Linked DNA regions of Homo sapiens: region 1 is linked to region 2. The links come from fine-mapping of genetic effects on gene expression. Tissue or cell type: hypothalamus. Region 2 holds a variant in brackets; the other region holds the start of a gene. All regions are shown on one strand. Distances are from middle to middle.

Region 1 (8,103 bases), 480 kb after region 2:
TTTCACCATGTTGGCCAGGATGGTCTCAAACACCTGACTTCCAGTGATCCACCCGCCTCAGCCTCCCAAAGTGGTGTGATTACAGGTGTGAGCCACCACGCTCGGCCTCCTTTACTTTCTTTTTTCTTTTTCTTTTTTTTTGAGATGGAGTCTTGCTCTGTTGCCCAGGCTGGAGTGCAGTGGTACGATGTCGGCTCACTGCAGCCTCCACCTTGCCTCCTGGGTCCTGGTTCAAGCAATTCTCCTGCCTCAGCCTCTGGAGTAGCTGGTATTATAGGCGCACGTCACCACGCCCAGCTAATTTTTGTATTTTTAGTAGAGGTGGGGTTTCACTATGTTGGCCAGGCTGGTCTTGAACTCCTGACCTCGTGATCCACCCCCCTCAGCCTCCCAAAGTGCTGGGATTACAAGCGTTAGCCACCACGCCCGGCCCCTTTACTTTCTTAATAAACTCATTATCGGCTGGGTGCCGTGGCTCATGCCTGTAATCCCAGCACTTTGGGAGGCCGAGGCAGGTGGATCACCTGAGGTCAGGAGTTCAAGATCAGCCTAGCCAACATGGTGAAACTCCACCTCTGCTAAAAATACAAAAATTAGCTGGGTGTGGTGGTGTGCGCCTGTAATCCCAGTTACTCAGGAGGATGAGGCAGGAGAATCACTTGAACCCAGGAGGCGGAGGTTACAGTGAGCTGAGATTGCCCCACTGCACTCCAGCCAGGGTGACAAGAGCAAAACTCTGTCTGAAAAAGAATAATAAATAAATAACTTGTTTTCACTTTATTGTATGGACTTGCCCCAAATTCTTTCCTGCACGAGATCCAAGAACCCTCTCTTGGGGTCTGAATCAGGACCCTTTTCCTGAAACAGTAACACCACCCAGATCAGGGCACAGAACATTATTACCTATCCTGAGAGGTGTCTTTGTGCCTTCTTCCAGGTACACCCTCCCCTCAAAGAGTAACCAGTATCCTGACTTCTAACACCATAGACTAGTTTTGCCTAACCTTACATAGTTTTTAAAATTGTAGGTGAATACAGAATCTGGAGCTACAGGACTTAGGGTTAGATCCCTGGTTCCTGGCTGAGTGATCTTCAACAAGCCATTTAATTTCTGTCACACTCAGTTTTCTTCTCTGTATAATGGTCATAAAAATACCTTGTACTGGCCGGGTGCGGTGGCTCACGCCTATAATCCCAGCACTTTGGGAGGCTAAGGCGGGCAGATCACAAGCTCAAGAGTTCAAGACCAGCCTGGCCAATATGGTGAAACCCCATCTCTACAAAAATACAAAAATTAGTCAGTCGTGGTGGCATGCACCTGTAATCCCAGCTGCTCGGGAGGCTGAGGCGGGAGAATCGCTTGAACCCGGGAGGCAGAGGTTGCAGTGAGCGGAGGTTGGGCCACTGCACTCAAGCCTGGGCGACAGAGTGAGACTCAGTCTCCAAAAAAAAAAAAAGCAAATTCTCAGGCCCTGCCCCAGACCTACTGAATCAGAAACTCTAGGAGTGGCCTCAGCAACCTACAGTTTAACTAACTTTGCAGGCAATTCTGATAAGTACTGAGGTTTGAAAACCACTGCACTAGAGAAACTGAATGAGGATGGGGCGCAGGAATCTGTATTTTAGCAATCTTTCCTAAGGCATGTTGCAGGAAACATGAAGTGGTTTTGAAAGTACTTTGCTTGAGGCTTGAAGGCTTGAACCTAGGAGTTTGATTTTTTATTTTTTTTAGATGGGGTTTCACTCTGTCACTCAGGATGGAGTGCAGTGGCGTGATCTTGGCTCACTGCAGTCTCCGTCTCCTGAGTTCAAGCAATTCTCCCACCCCAGCCTCCCGAGTAGCTGAGATTACAGGGGTGTGCCATGCCCAACTAATTTTTGCATTTTTTTTTTTGAGACAGATTCTCGCTCTGTGGCCCAGGATGGAGTGCAGTAGCACGATCTTGGCTCACTGCAACCTCCGCCTCCCAGGTCCAAGCAATTCTCTGCCTCAGCCTCCTGACTAGCTGGGATTACAGGCACCCGCCACCACGCCCGGCTAATTTTTGTATTTTTAGTAGAGATAGGGTTTCACCATGATAGCCAGGCTGGTCTTGAACTCCTGATCTCGTGATCCGCCCGCCTTGGCCTCCCAAAGTGCTGGGATTATAGGCGTGAGCCACCGTGCCCGGTCTAATTTTTGCATTTTTAGTAGAGATGGGGTTTCACCATGTTAGCCAGGCTGGTCTTGAACTCCTGACCTCAGTTGATCCATCCGCCTCGGCCTCCCAAACCATGCCCAACAAATTTTTGCATTTTTAGTAGAGACAAGATTTCACCATGTTGGCCAGGCTGGTCTCAAACTCCTGACCTCAGGTGATCCACCCGCCTCAGCCTCCCGAAGTGCTGGGATTATAGGAGTGAGCTACTGCGCCCAGCCTTTATGTTTCTTTTGTTGTTTGTTTTTTGAGACAGAGTCTCGCTGAGTCGCCCAGGCTGGAGTGCAATGGCGTGATCTTGGGTCACTGCAACCTCCCCCTCCTGGGTTCAATCAATTATCGTGCTTCAGCCTCCCAAGTAGCTGGGATTACAGGCACCCGCCACCACACCTGGCTAATTTTTGTGTTTTTAGTAGGGAAGGGGTTTCACAAGGCTAGGCGTGGTGGCTCACCCAACTCTACTAAAAATACAAAAATTAGCCAGGCGTGATGGCATGCGCTTGTAGTCCCAGCTACTTAGGAGGCTGAGACAGGAGAATCACTTGAACCCAGGAGGCGAGCGGAGGTTGCAGTGAGCCAAGATTGCGCCACTGCACTCCAGCCTGGGCGACAGAGCAATACTCTGTCTCAAAAAAAAAAAAAAAAAAAAAAAGAGACGGGGTTTCACCATGTTGGCCAGACTGGTCTCAAACTCCTGACCTCAAGTGATTTGCCTGCCTTGGCCTCCCTAACTCCTGGGATTACAGGTGTAAGCCACTGACCCTAGCCAAGCCTAGGAGTCTGAGAACAGCCTGGGCAACACAGGGAGTCCACGTCTCTACAAAAATAAAAACAATTAGGATAGTGTGGTGGCTTGAGCCTGGAGTCCCAGCTACTCAGGAAGCTGAGGTGAGAGGATCACTTGAGCCCAGGAGGTTGGCTGCAGTGAGCTATGATTGCACCGCTGCACTCCAGGTTGGGTGACAGAGCAAGACTCTGTCTCAAAAAAAAAAAAAAAAAAAAAGTCACTTTGAAAAATGTGACTTTCCAGATGGCAAAATACTATTTTCATTAGGAGGAAACAGGCTAAACAGTAATAGCAAAGGTCACTAAGTATTGAGCACTTAGTCATACCTCTGAGTCTCTGCCTGCATAGCCTATTATTTCTCACAAGCAATCCATGAAGAAGGTTAAGACAACGGACTTTCACGCCAGACTGCCTGGGTTCTTATCAAGTATGTGACTTAGTTTATATATTTGTAAAATGGGGATAATAATGGTATTTCTGTAATAGGTTTGTTGTGAGAATAAAGGGAGCTTGGTATCAGCTCTTAGAATACCGGACAGGCCACGTTGGCTCCACTAAGCTGTTGTCATCATCCCTAAGGGCACCCAGTTAAAAGGTAGAAAAGGGAGGATTTGAATCCGGTCAGTGTAACTCTCAAGTGTACATTTTTTTTCTTTTATTTTCTTTTTAACCACGCCCTTTAATGTACATTGTTAAAGGCTAAGCCAGGCCAGGTGCAGTGGCTCACATCTGTAATCTCAGCGATTGGGAGGCCCGAGGAGGGAGTATCGCTTGAGCCCAGGAGCTGGAGACCAGCCTGGGCAACATGGCGACACCGTGGCCCTATTCCCGCCCCATCCCATCCGCACTCCACCCCATCCCCATCTCTACAAAGAATAGAACAAAATTAGTCGGGTGTGGTGGTGCTCAACTGCTGTCCCAGCTACTCAGGAAGCCCAGGTGGGAGGCTCGCTTGAGCCCAGGAGTGTGAGGCTGTAGTGAGCTATGACTGCACCACTGCACTCCAGCCTGGGTGAAGGGTGAGACCTTATCTCAAAAAGAAGAAAAAAAAAGAAAAGGAAAAGAAAAAGAAAAAAGAACAACTAAGTTATAAACTAAGCTATATAGCCCATTGGTTCTCAAATTATGATTTCACTCACTAGCAGTATCACTAGACAGCTTGTTGGACATGCAAATTATCAGACCCTATCCTCCTATGCCAGATCTTCTGATCAGAAACTCTGGGGGTGGGGGTCAGCAGTGTAAGTTTTAATAAGCTCTCTAGGTGATTCTGATGCACACCATAGTTTGAGAATCACAGTCCTTATAGGCTCTGGTGGGCGGGGTGTTAAAAAAAAAAAAAAGCCTGGAGGTGCTGGGAGCCGCTCGCGCCCATCTCACCTGGAGCTGAGGAAAACTGGGATTTAACTGATTTACCACCGCAGCCAGCTCTTCAAGCCAGGGGCGGGCCGGACGGCTGGCGCGCAAGGCCTGCTGGGGCTTGTAGTCTAGACCACTTCCGCGCTCAGGCGCCTGCGCTTTAGCTGCTAACTCGCTCTAGTAGCTGTGGTCGGGGCTCGGGACCGGCTGCCATCTTAGTCTAGGGACTGAGGAGTCGCCGCCGCCCCGAGTCCCGGTAAACCCCCGTGGGCGAACTCGGGGCAGTTCTCGGGAGAGGGAGGGAGTCCGGATGAGAATGTTCGGGGAGAACAAGGGTAGAGGAGTGGGACGCGCGGTTCGGGACCCCAGAGCCGCGGCTGCTCCTTCTTCCAGAGCCGGTGTCTGTCGGGGGCGCGGGGAGCTCGGGCTACTGGCCCGGGCCGGGCGGTGGGGGTGGGCTGTCTGGACGTTCGGAGGGATCAGTGTCTGGCACAGGCTTCCGGAGGCCTTCGCCTCGCGGGCTCCAAGTTGTGAAAGGGCTGGGCCACGACGGGCGTGGGTACCGTCCGGCCCCTCGCCCCTCAGCCCCGCCTGGGGCCACTCTCCAGCGGTTCGGCCTACGCGCGGGGCCCGGCGGCGGGGCCGGCGCGGGCGACGTGGCCCTGTGAGGGGCGGCGGCCGGGTCCCCCGCCACCCAGCTGGCCTTCTCGAGACTTTTCCGAGCCCCCAGTCGCTAGAAGGGCCCAGCACAGCGGCTGCCTCCCCTTCTCTCTCCCACTCGCCTCCTCCTTCCATTGTCCCCCCGGCGTGGTGGTCCCGGCTCCGGCGCCCTCCCCGACGTCCGCCACCGTCGTGGCGGCGCCGACTTTTGCAGACGTGGAGCTGTCACTGCCCTTCCTCCGGAGAGTGCCCTTTTCTTTAGCAGAGAAAAGAAAAAAGTAGCCGTTGAACGTATTCTAAGGGTCGAAGCATGATGACATGACTTTTAAGTGGAGAACTCAAGTTTTCCAAGACAGTTCCCGTCCGCGACAGAAAAGAGAATCGCAGAATTTGTGCGCCCGAAGTAGACGCTGGGCCTAAAGTTAGTTGGACATGTAACCAGGTGAACTTGTAAAGGGCCAGGAATTCATTATCCCCAATAACAACGCAACCTTGTTTTCTTGGTTGTATTCGTATCCTAATCTTATTACATTTTCTGCCATTCTTCCACAGCTACAGTATACTTGGTTTGGAGTGGGGGATGGGGAATTGTGGGATTTTTGCCTTGAAAATTAGTAAGACCCTGGAGCCAGCCACCCACTTAGGTGGGTTCTCCTGCATCTTTTCCTGATAGAATTCGATCTTCAGGAAGTATGTAAAGGCAGTGTATTTCCATTCTCAAAATCGGCTAAGGAATGGTTTATCAGTTGAGGTGAAGTTCTCATGGCAGATCTGCTGAGAGCTTGCTATGTGTATTTACAGGTTTATTTAAGCTACGATTTATTTTTAAAATTAAGAAATGGGCCGGGTGCTGTGTGTGGCTCACGCCTGTAATCCTAGCACTTTGGGAGGCCGAGGCGGGCAGATCATGAGGTCAGGAGTTCGAGACCATCCTGACCAACATGGTGAAACCCCGTCTCTACTAAAAATACAAAAAAAAAAAAAAAAAAATCCTGGGCGTGGTGGCGCGCGCCTGTAGTCCCAGCTACTAGGGAGGCTGAGGCAGGAGAATGGCTTGAACCCGGGAGGTGGAGGCTGCAGTGAGCCGAGATCTCGCTGCTGCACTCCAGCCTGGGCGACAGAGCGAGACTCCGCCTCAAAAAAAAAAAAAAAAAAAAAGCAATGGGATGGGTGTGGTGGCTCACGCCTGTAATCCCAGCAATTTGGGAGGCCGAGGTGGGCGGATTACGTGAGCCCAGGAATTGGAGATCAGCCTGGGCAACATCGTGAAACCCCGTCTCTACAAAAAATACAAAGATTTGCCGGGTGTGGTGGCAGGCGCCTGTGGTCCCAGATACTCAGGAGGCTGAGGTGGGGGAATCACCTGATTCCGGGGGGTCGAGGCTGCGGTGAGCTGTTACCGTTGCCACTGCATTCCAGCCTGGGTGACAGAGTGAGACCCTGTCTCAAAAAATAAAAAAAAAAATTTAGAAATGAAGGTGGAAATTCTACTGCTTCTTTGAACTGTGAATTTAAGTTTTGTGAGTCCAAAAGGAATTCCATTACATTCAGCATACAGGTCAAGTCACCAAGGATATCATATGAAATTAAAAAAATGAGTACAGACTACTTCTTCAGTGTATTCTAGAATCAAACATTTCTACATTCTTTAGAAAAAAATACATCTTTTTCGTTTGTTTGAGACGGAATCTAACTTTGTCACCCAGGCTGGAGTACAGTGGTGTGATCTCGGCTTACTGTAACCTCCGCCTCCCGGGTTCCAGCAATTCTTCTGCCTCAGCCTCCGTAGTAGCTGGGACTACAGGCGCGTGCCACCACTCCCGGTAATTTTTTTGTATTTTTTAGTAGAGATGGGTTTTCACCATATTGGCTAGGCTGCTCTCGAACTCCTGACCTCGTGATCCACCTGCCTTGGCCTCCCAAAGTGCTGGGTTTACAGGCATGAGCCGCCACTCCTGGCCCTAAAAAATACATCTTTTCACTTATTGGGAGAGGCAGACAAACCAGTAGTCCCCAAATTTGACCATTAGAATAATTAGGAGAGCTTAGAAATTCCAGGGTCTTACCTTCTGAGATGGATTTAGTAGGTCTGGGTTGGCTTCAACCAATTTATTTTTAACACATGCCTTAGGTAATTCTGATGGTCTTGGGAACCACTGAGGGCAAATGGTACTGTAGACTTACCAAGGAAAGGTCAAAAAGCTTTGAGACGAAAGAGGAAGTGGCCAATTCTGTGTGTGTGGCTGGGTGGAGGATTGGTTAGAAGAGGCAAGATTTGCCCCTGAACCCACATTGGGTCTTACATGAAGAGTAGGAGTGTGAAAAGGGCGGGGAAAGAGAAGGACAGGGTAGGCTGAGTGAATGCCTTAATGCTGTGTGTAAATTCAGAGGATTATGGAACAAAAAGGGTTCAGGGAGTGTGGAGTGGAATGGGGAAGGAGAGCATTTTGAAACGCAAGGTCAGAAAGGTTAAAGGAAGCAAGTATATGAAAAGTGATTTTTTGTTGTTGAGACTGGGTCTCACCCAGTCACGCAGGATGGAGTGCAGTGACAGGACCTCCAGAGCTCAAGTGATCTTCCCACCCCAGCCTCCCTGAGTAGCTGGGACAACAGGCATGCATTAGCATGCCTGGCTAATTTTTAAAATTTTTTTGTAGAGAAAGGTTCTCTTTACGTTGCCCAGTCTGGTCTTAACTCCTGTGTTCAAGTGGTCCTCCCACCTTGGCCTCCTAAAGTGTTGGGATTACAGGTGTAAGCTACTGTGCTCTGGCTAAAAATTTTAAGTATAATGCTAAAAATTTGGAATTTTATGTTGGTAGAAATAGATACAGGGCTGGGCTCAGTGCCTCACACCTGTAATCTCAACAGTTTGGGAGGCTGAGGCGGGTGAATCGCTTGAGCTCAGGAGTTTGAGACCAGCCTGGGCAACATGGTGATATCCCGTCTTTACCAAAAGGAAGGAAAAAAAAAAGAAATAGATGCAGATTTTTCGACAGGGAAATGATGTGAGTACATATGTGTTTTAGAAAATTGCTGTGTACTGCAGGACAAAGATAGGTATCAAAAAACAAAAAAAGAAAGATTGCTCTGGTGATGAGC
Region 2 (8,103 bases):
CCACATAAAACATGATCCCCATTTTGGTGAGGAAATCACAGCCTGGAGAGGTGTGGTGATTTACACAGCCTGGATTCGATTGCACTGAGCCTGCCCCACCCTCACCCTGCTCTGATTCAGGGACCCTGGCCTGGCCCTCATCTTTGGTGGTTGCTGTCGTCAAGGCACTGGCCTTGCGTGATGGATGAGCAGGCAGCCTCATTAAACACAAACCCTTGTTGGTTTCCCAAAGCCCACAGGAGCAGCGAGGCCCGGGATCTGGGAGCAGGGAAGCTGAACAGGACCCCATCTGTCCTGTTCCCTCCGGCTTCTGCTCAAACAGGCATTTGTCTGCCATGGCAAGAGGGCAGCCTCAGACACTTCATCTCTGGGCAATTAGGGGGCTGCACGTGAGAAGAGTAATGACTGGCCAGAGGGGATTTATCAGGGGCCAGTGTGGCTGGGCGGGGCTCAAGATTTGACATCCACCTCTTTTCCGAGGGGAAGGAGCTGGTTAGCATCCCTGCCTGGCAGTGGAGCCTCGTTAGCTCTGCCTTCTACTGTCCCTTCCCCCTCCAACGCTCTGCTCCCCACCCCACCTCCTTGTCTCTGCCCTAGATCAGAGGCCAGGCACTAGCTGGATGGTCACACCTGCCTCCTCCATGCTGCCCCCTGTGAACCACTCTCCGCACTGGCTGCTCACAAGTCTGATCACGTCACACACCTCCTCCCTACCTTTAAATCCTTCCATGGCTCCCTACTGCCCAAATCATAAGCAGCTGTTGTGTTCGGGTGGTCCTAGGTGACCAGCTTCCCCACGAGCGATTTCTCTCCTTTGGTTTGATTCGTGTCAAAGATGAGTCTTAGACACTGCCTGATGCTCAAACGGTTTATCCTTTTCTTAAAAAAAAAAAAGATGGGATCTTGCTGTGTTGCCCAGGCTGGTCTTGAACTCCTGGCCTTAACCCATCTTCCTCCCTTGGCCTCCCAAAGTTCTGAGTTACAAGCATGAACCATGGTGCCCGGCCTCAAGTGATTTATTTTGGCTGTGCTGTTACGAGACAGACATCAATGACACGGGCCAGATACACTTAGGAGGTCAGAGGACCAGCTGACCAGGAGGGTCTCTGTGTAGAGACCATCCTCAGAGTTTGGGGGATCCTTCTCCCTTCCCTAGACCTGGGTTCAGTCTAGGTTAGTCGCCAGGTGTTTCTTTCAAAAAAGAAGTTTAAGCTATTCTTGTAAGGGGAAGCTTTGTTTCAAGGTTTATGAAAGTTGCATCTGTGCTGAGGTGGTCTTGTTTTCTGGAAATCCCCTGGCCAGGGTTGGAAATCCTGGGGCCAGGCTGTATCAACTGCTAAGTGACACCTGGTGTCCGGCCTGTGAGATGCTTAAGTGGGTCCTATGGCTCTTGTTAATCTCACAGTTGCAGTATGTCTCTTTTTATACTATGACAGCAACCTCAGCCCTGGTGACCTCAGCTCCCGCGCCGCATCCTCTGTACTCTTGCTCTTCAATTTTTAAGAATGAGTTTCATGATTATGGGTTTCAAAAATTACATTCAGGACTGCGTGTGGTGGCTCATGCCTATAATCCCAGCACTTTGGGACGCCAAGGTGGGTGGATCACTTGAGGTTAGGAGACCAGTCTGGTCAACATGGTGAAACCCTGTCTCTACTAAAAAAAATAAAACTTAGCAGGGCGTGATGGTGCACACCTGTAATTCCAGCTACTCAGGAGGCTGAGGCAGCAGGATCACTTGAATCTGGGAGGTGGAGGTTGAAGTGAGCCGACAACATGCCACTGCACTCCAGCCTGGGTGACAGAGTGAGACTCCATCTCAAAACAAAAACAAAAACAAAAACAATTCAAAAGGCACACAGTAAAACAAGGCTAACTCCTGCATCGTCCTCACCTGCCTAGTCCCCATCACCTGCCACATGCCTTAGTTCCTTGTGTATCCTTCCAGTTTCTTTATGCAAATGTAAATAGGACAAATATGTCGTCATATTTACCACCCCCACACATGCTTTATATACAAATGGTAGCTTATCAGGAACGTGGTTCTATACTTTCATTTTTGCACTTAATACATCTTGGAGATCTTTTTGTATCTGCAGAGAGAAGGCTGCTTCATTCTCTGGTACAGCTTGACCATCATTTCCTTAGCCAGCTCCCAGGTAGTGGATGTTTGTGTGGCAGGTGCTGCTGCTGCCCTGTCCCATATCTCCCACCTACCAGAGCTCACCAGCAGCCCTTTCATTTCTCCAGGCTTTAGCCCACACAGGTCTCTCTGCCTGGGATATGCTTCTGCTTCTTCATCTCAAATCAAGAGTCTGGCAGCCCCGCCAGAGACACTAACCTAACTAGTTCAGGCAGGGCTAGCACTTTGGGCCTCAGGGTCTCCCTTACCTCCTCTGCCTCAGGAATGATCACAGTGGATTAAATCCTCTCCTTATCTGCCTGCCTGGCTGGGAGCACCTGGGCAGGGGTCAGAGCTGTGGGGGGGCAATGGGGAAGATGAGTCAGATTCATCACTATGTCCCAGCACCTCTTACCACATCCCATGGCCTCTAGTGAAGCAGGAGAAGGATTGTATAAAATCCAAACTCCTTCCCGTGGCCTACAAAGCCCTGCTGACCCCGTCCCTGCCTGCCATCACCCCCAACCTCAGGTCCAGCCAGTGTGGCCTTCTTGTTCCTCAGAGACCTCAAACTCGATCCTGCCTCAGGGCTTTTGTTCTTATACTTTCCTCTACTTGGACTCTCTTTTCCCCAGATCTCCTGATTAGACCTCAGCTCAAATGACACTTCCTCCAAGAGGCCTTCCCTGACCACCTTGACTAAAATATCCTACTCACCCCTGCCAACTTTGGGAACCCAAGGCAGGAAGATCAGTTGAGGCCAGGAGTTCAAGACCAGCCTGGGCAACATAGTGAGATCCCATCTTTGAAAAAAAAAAAAAAACACCCCCACTTTCTTAGCAGTTATGGGATGAATTGTGTCCTTCCCAAAGTTTATAGGTTGAAGCCCTAACCCCGAGTACCTCAGAATGTCACTGTGTTTGGAGATAAGGTCTTTAAAGAGGTGAATAAGTTAAAATGAGGCCAGTAGGGCTGGGTCTTAATCCAATCTGAGTGGTGTCCTTTTTGTTTGTTTGTTTGTTTGTTTTGTTTTGTTTTGTTTTTGAGACAGAGTCTTGCTCTGTCTCCCAGGCTGGAGTGCAGTGATGCGATCTTGGTTCACTGCAACCTCTGCCTCTGGGGTTCAAGCAATTTTCCTGCCTCAGTCTCCCGAGTAGCTGGGACTAACAGGCACGTGCCACCACTCCC[G/A]GCTAATTTTTTTTTTGTATTTTTGGTAGAGACAGGGTTTCACCATGTTGGCCAGGCTGGTCTTGAACTCCTGAGCTCGTGATCCACCCATCTCGGCCTCCCAAAGTGCTGGGATAACAGGCGTGAGCCACTGTGCCCGGCCTGGTATCCTTTTTAAAAGGGGGAAGCAACACAAGGGATGAGGGTGCACAGAGGGAAGGCCGTGTGAGGACATGGGGAGGAAAGCCGAGGAGGGAGGCCTCCAAGGAAACCCTGCGGGTGCCTTGGTCTTGGACTTGCTGCCTCTGGAACTGTGGGAAAATAAATTTCTGTTATTTGAGCCAGGGGTCCTCAATCCCCTGGCCATGGACCAGTACTGGTCCATGGCCTATTAGGAACCTGGCACACAGCAGGAGGTGAGTGGCTGGTGAGGGAGAGAAGCTTCGTCTGTATATACAGCCGCTCCCCATCACACGAATGGCTGCCTGAGCTCTGCCTCCTGCCAGATCAGCGGCAGCATTAGATGCTCACAGGAGTGTGAACCCTGTTGTGAACTGTTCATGCGGGGGATCTAGGTTGCATGCTCCTTATGAGAATCTAATGCCTGATGATCTGTCACTGTCTCCCGTGACTCTCAGATGGGACCATCTAGTCGCAGGAAAACAAGCTCAGGCTGGACCTGGTGGCTCACGCCTGTAATCCCAGCACTTTGGGAGGCCGAGGCAGGTGGATCACGAGGTGAGGAGTTTGAGGCCAGCCTGACCAACATGGTGAAACCCTGTCTCTACTAAAAATACAAAAATTAGCAGGGCACGGTGGTGAGCGCTTGTAATTCCAGCTACTCAGGAGGGTGAGGCAGGAGAATTGCTTGAACCCAGGAGGCGGAGGTTGCAGTGAGCCAAGATCGCGCCATTGCACTCCAGCCTGGGCGACAGAGAGAGACTTCGTCTCAAAAAAAAAAAAAAAAAAGGAACACAAGCTCAGGGCTCCCACTGATTCTACATTATGGTGAGTCATATAATTATTTCGTTGTATATTACAGTGTGGTAATAATATAAATAAAGTGTACAATAAATATAATATGAATCATCCCCAAACCATCCCCCCCACTATCCATGGAAAAACTGTCTTCCACGAAACCCGTCCCTGGTGCCAAAAAGGTTGGGACCACTGATTTAAGCTACCCAGTCTGTGGTACTTTGTTATGCAGCCTAAGCTGACTCTACATCTTCCAGCGCATTTCTTCCAATGCACTGTCTGACATGACTTGTTTACTGTCTGCCTCCCCGTACAAGGGCAAGTCATTTAATTGTCTTGCTCATGGTGTAGCCCCAGCTCCTACAACAGAGCCTGGTACATAGTAGGCACTCAATAAATACTCACAGGATGAATGAGCAAATGCCAATTCCATGAAGCAGAGAGTGTCATATGAAGATCCCCCCAACGCTCACAAGCACATGTGTGAATGCACCCACATGTGTGCTCAGACATGTACGTGGATAGCTGGGCGCTCACACACATGCATCCTGCCCTGCATCTTTGCCTCTGACCATGTCCACTTCATGGCAAGGGCCATGTACACAGCCTGCAGGCTCAGCGGATGGCATGACTGTGCCTGTTTCAAGCTGGCTGTGCCTCTGAGCTGCCCTCAGAAACCCACGCCTGGCGCTCCTGTCAGGAGTGTGCTTGGATGCTAGGCCTCCCAGAGGGGTCAGAAGATGGGGAAGAAGAATCTGTTTGCAAATGGAAATCAGAATAAGCTCTACCAGGCACAGAGAACAGGGAAGGCAGTGGGCAGAATATGAGTTTTCCCAGCCCCCCACTGGGGGTCAGAACAATCAGCGAGTTCCTTCTGTGCCAGCCACATGACAAGTACATTATGCCCTGTGAAGTGGTGGGTTATTCACTCCCATTTTACCGATGAGAACACAGGCTGGTGTATCCCAGCATTTTGGGAGGCCGAGGTGGGATGATTTCTTGAGCCCAGGAGGTCTGGTTTGCAGTGATCTGTGATTGTACCATAGCACTCCAGCCTGAGTGACAGAGTAAGTCCCTGTCTCTCTCTCTCTCTCTCTCTCTCTCTCTCTCTCTCTCTCTCTATATATATATATATATATATATATATATATATATATATATATATATATATATTTATGTACACACACACGGGATTGGAGAGACCAATTCAATACTCCCTCAGTATTTTTTTTTGAGATGGAGTCTCACTCTGTTGCCCAGGCTGGAATGAAGTGGCTTGATCTTGGCTCACTACAACCTCTGCCTCCCAGGTTCAAGTGATTCTCCTGCCTCAGCCTCCTGAGCAGCTGGGATTACAGGTCCCCCGCCACCACGCCTGGCTAATTTTTGCATTTTCATTAGAGACGGAGTTTCACCATGTTGGCAAGTCTGGTCTCAAACTCCTGACCTCAAGTGATCTGCCTGCCTTAGCCTCCCAAAGTGTCCCCCAGTATTTTATGGAGGCCCTAGGTATAACACTGATTGCTCACTTATTTTGTTGAAGCAGATGATATGGTGATTAAGAGCCTCAGCTTGGGAGCCAGACAGCCTGGGTTCAAATTCTTGCCCTGATAATTACTAGCTGTGTGATTTTGGGCAAATCACATCGCCTGTCTATGCCTTCCTTTCTTTATCTGTAAAATAGAGTTATAATGGTACCTACTTGCTTGAGTTAATACATGTACAGGGCTTCGAATGGGGCCTGGCATGTAGTAGGCACATTTCTTGAGCAATAAATGTTAGTCCTTATTCCTTATTTCTAATTGTATCAGGATGTTCCCACCGAATCCTGCTCCTCCTCCAGGGCTGTGCCAGCTGCCTCTCTTTCAGGCCAGACCTTGAACAATCTTTGCTGTAAGAAGGTATCACAAACTGGAAGGCTTACAGCTACAGGAGTGTATTCTGTTAGTGCTGGAGGCCAAAAGTCTGAAATCAAGGTGAGGGCCGGGCCTGCTCCCTCTGAAATCTTTCTTGCCTCTTCCTAGGGGGATCCTTCCTTGCCTCTGCCTAGCTCCTGGTGGTTTCCCAGCAATCCTCAGCGTTCCTTGGTGTGCGGGTGCGTAACTCCAGTCTCTGCCTTCCTCATCACAGGGCATTCTCCCTGACTTCACATAGCTGTCTCCTTAGAAGAACGCAGTTCTATCAGATTAGGGGCCCATTCTACTCAAGGATAGCCTCATCTTTAATTACTAATTAAACTTGCAAGGACACCATTCTCAAATCAGATCACATTCTGAGGTCCATATCTTTTTTTTTTTGAGGGGATTGGAGAGAACAATTCGACCCATAATAGCAAATCTCTCTTGTCCCTGGGGAAGCTGTGTCTTTAAAAAGAGCTAGATGGGGAATAAAGAGATTTCAAAGCCAACAAGAAAAATGGTCTTGAAGTGGATGCTCTGGTTCTCCGTGTCTCTGGTTTACTGGCTGGACTGAGCTCCCTGGGTAGTTTTATTCTCCGATCGCTGCCGTCACCCATATTCTGTCTTCCCTGTCCCTTCATGGGTTGTACGGACTGCCGATCACACTGGAGCATGAGGGAGTCCCGGCCAGTCTGGCCCAGTTGAAAGCCCCACCTCTCCTCTGGGTTAACATGGAGGAGGGAGGGCACAGGGAAAAGGTCTCTCCCCTAATAGCTTCCTGTTGGGGACTCCCTCACCTCTTGTGGCCAATGCCATCTCTCAGGCCATCCCTGACTGGCCATCAGGGATTTCTGTGTCATTAGGGCCGGATGGTGGCTCTGGCATGGGGTGCAGGTCCTTGGGGGATCCTTGGAGGCCTCTTTTCCTTGCATTCCCACAGCTGACTCTGTGTGCCCTCTTTTTCTCCCGTAGCTCCCCTTCCCTGCCTGTTTTCCTCTGGGCCCCCTTGCCTGGTCAGCAGCCCTCTTTGCTGGCAGAGCAGCAAGATGTCTCCCTCCCATGATGCCCTCTTGGCTCCTGGAAACCTCCCACTCCCTTGCTACCCAGTTGCTGGGGCTGGGGTGTGGGCTATTCCACGTGTCCTCTCTGCCTGCCCATATTTTTTCATAGTTCATTCATAGTTCTTCTCCCCAAAAAGAGAGGCATGAGAGCAGGGGAGCCTAGGCAGACCCTCCACTGGAGAATGAGGTGTTGGACCCTCCTAAATGCAGCTCTGCTTTCTGAGATTTCACTTGGAACCCCCTACATTTGGCTTGAATTGAGGAAGTGAGAGTCATTCTCCCTTCCCAGGGGAGGGAAAAGTCTTAGTGCCACCTGCCTTCTCCTCAGGCTGGGACACTTAACTCCAAAGACCTCCCCCAACTCCCCACCTGCTTATTTAAAGGGGGCCCAGGGGAGGTAGAAGAGCTGGTCTGGCTGCCCCTTAATAAGTCCTGAGGTGCCCCCCACCACCATCTTGGTGGTTATCTTGGAAAGGAGTTCAATGTCCTTTTGTCCTCTGCCCTGGGTCACATTGCACTTAACAACCCTTGGCATCTGCACTTCAGCGCATCCTCCATAACCTGAAGACTCCAGAAAGGAGGAAGGGCTAAAAGTATGGGATAAGCTACCCCCAAATTATTGGTGCCTCCTCTGTACCAACTTTGTAACAGGTGTTTGTCTCCATGGACCCACTGGATGCTCTGTGAGCTCCATGAAGGTCCCATTTTCCCAGGACCAGGCCTGGATCCTGGTACATTATATATACTCAAGAAAACATCTGTTGAGAGAGTGACTGTGGTGGCTTTAGTGGTTGTCCTAAGGTTTACAGTATACATATTTAATTTGTCAGAGTCTATCTTCAAATAATATCATACCACTTTATATGTAGTATAAGAA

Which allele goes with the higher level. Positions count from the first base shown, and alleles are read on the strand shown. Sizes are in standard deviations (SD) of each study's normalised expression.
In carriers of allele G in region 2, the expression in hypothalamus of the gene that starts at base 4,524 in region 1 tends to be higher than with A alone (moderate effect, 0.44 SD a copy in GTEx).

What was found. PIP is the estimated chance that this variant, and not a neighbour inherited with it, causes the effect.
Region 1: ITCH starts here. The variant in region 2 is fine-mapped to the expression of ITCH in hypothalamus (GTEx, PIP above 0.99).

What each region holds. Positions count from the first base shown.
Region 1 is chr20:34,358,750-34,366,852 of GRCh38, forward strand. ITCH (itchy E3 ubiquitin protein ligase) reads left to right here and starts at 4,524. Exons shown (of 25, transcript NM_031483.7): 1 at 4,524-4,600. RefSeq lists a silencer at 4,829-5,058.
Region 2 is chr20:33,882,010-33,890,112 of GRCh38, forward strand. No RefSeq gene overlaps it. Among named protein-coding and RNA genes, the nearest start is that of CHMP4B, 75 kb to the left of the region's middle. RefSeq lists enhancers at 1,194-1,313, 1,494-1,753. The variant G/A (reference allele first, on the strand shown) is at 3,311.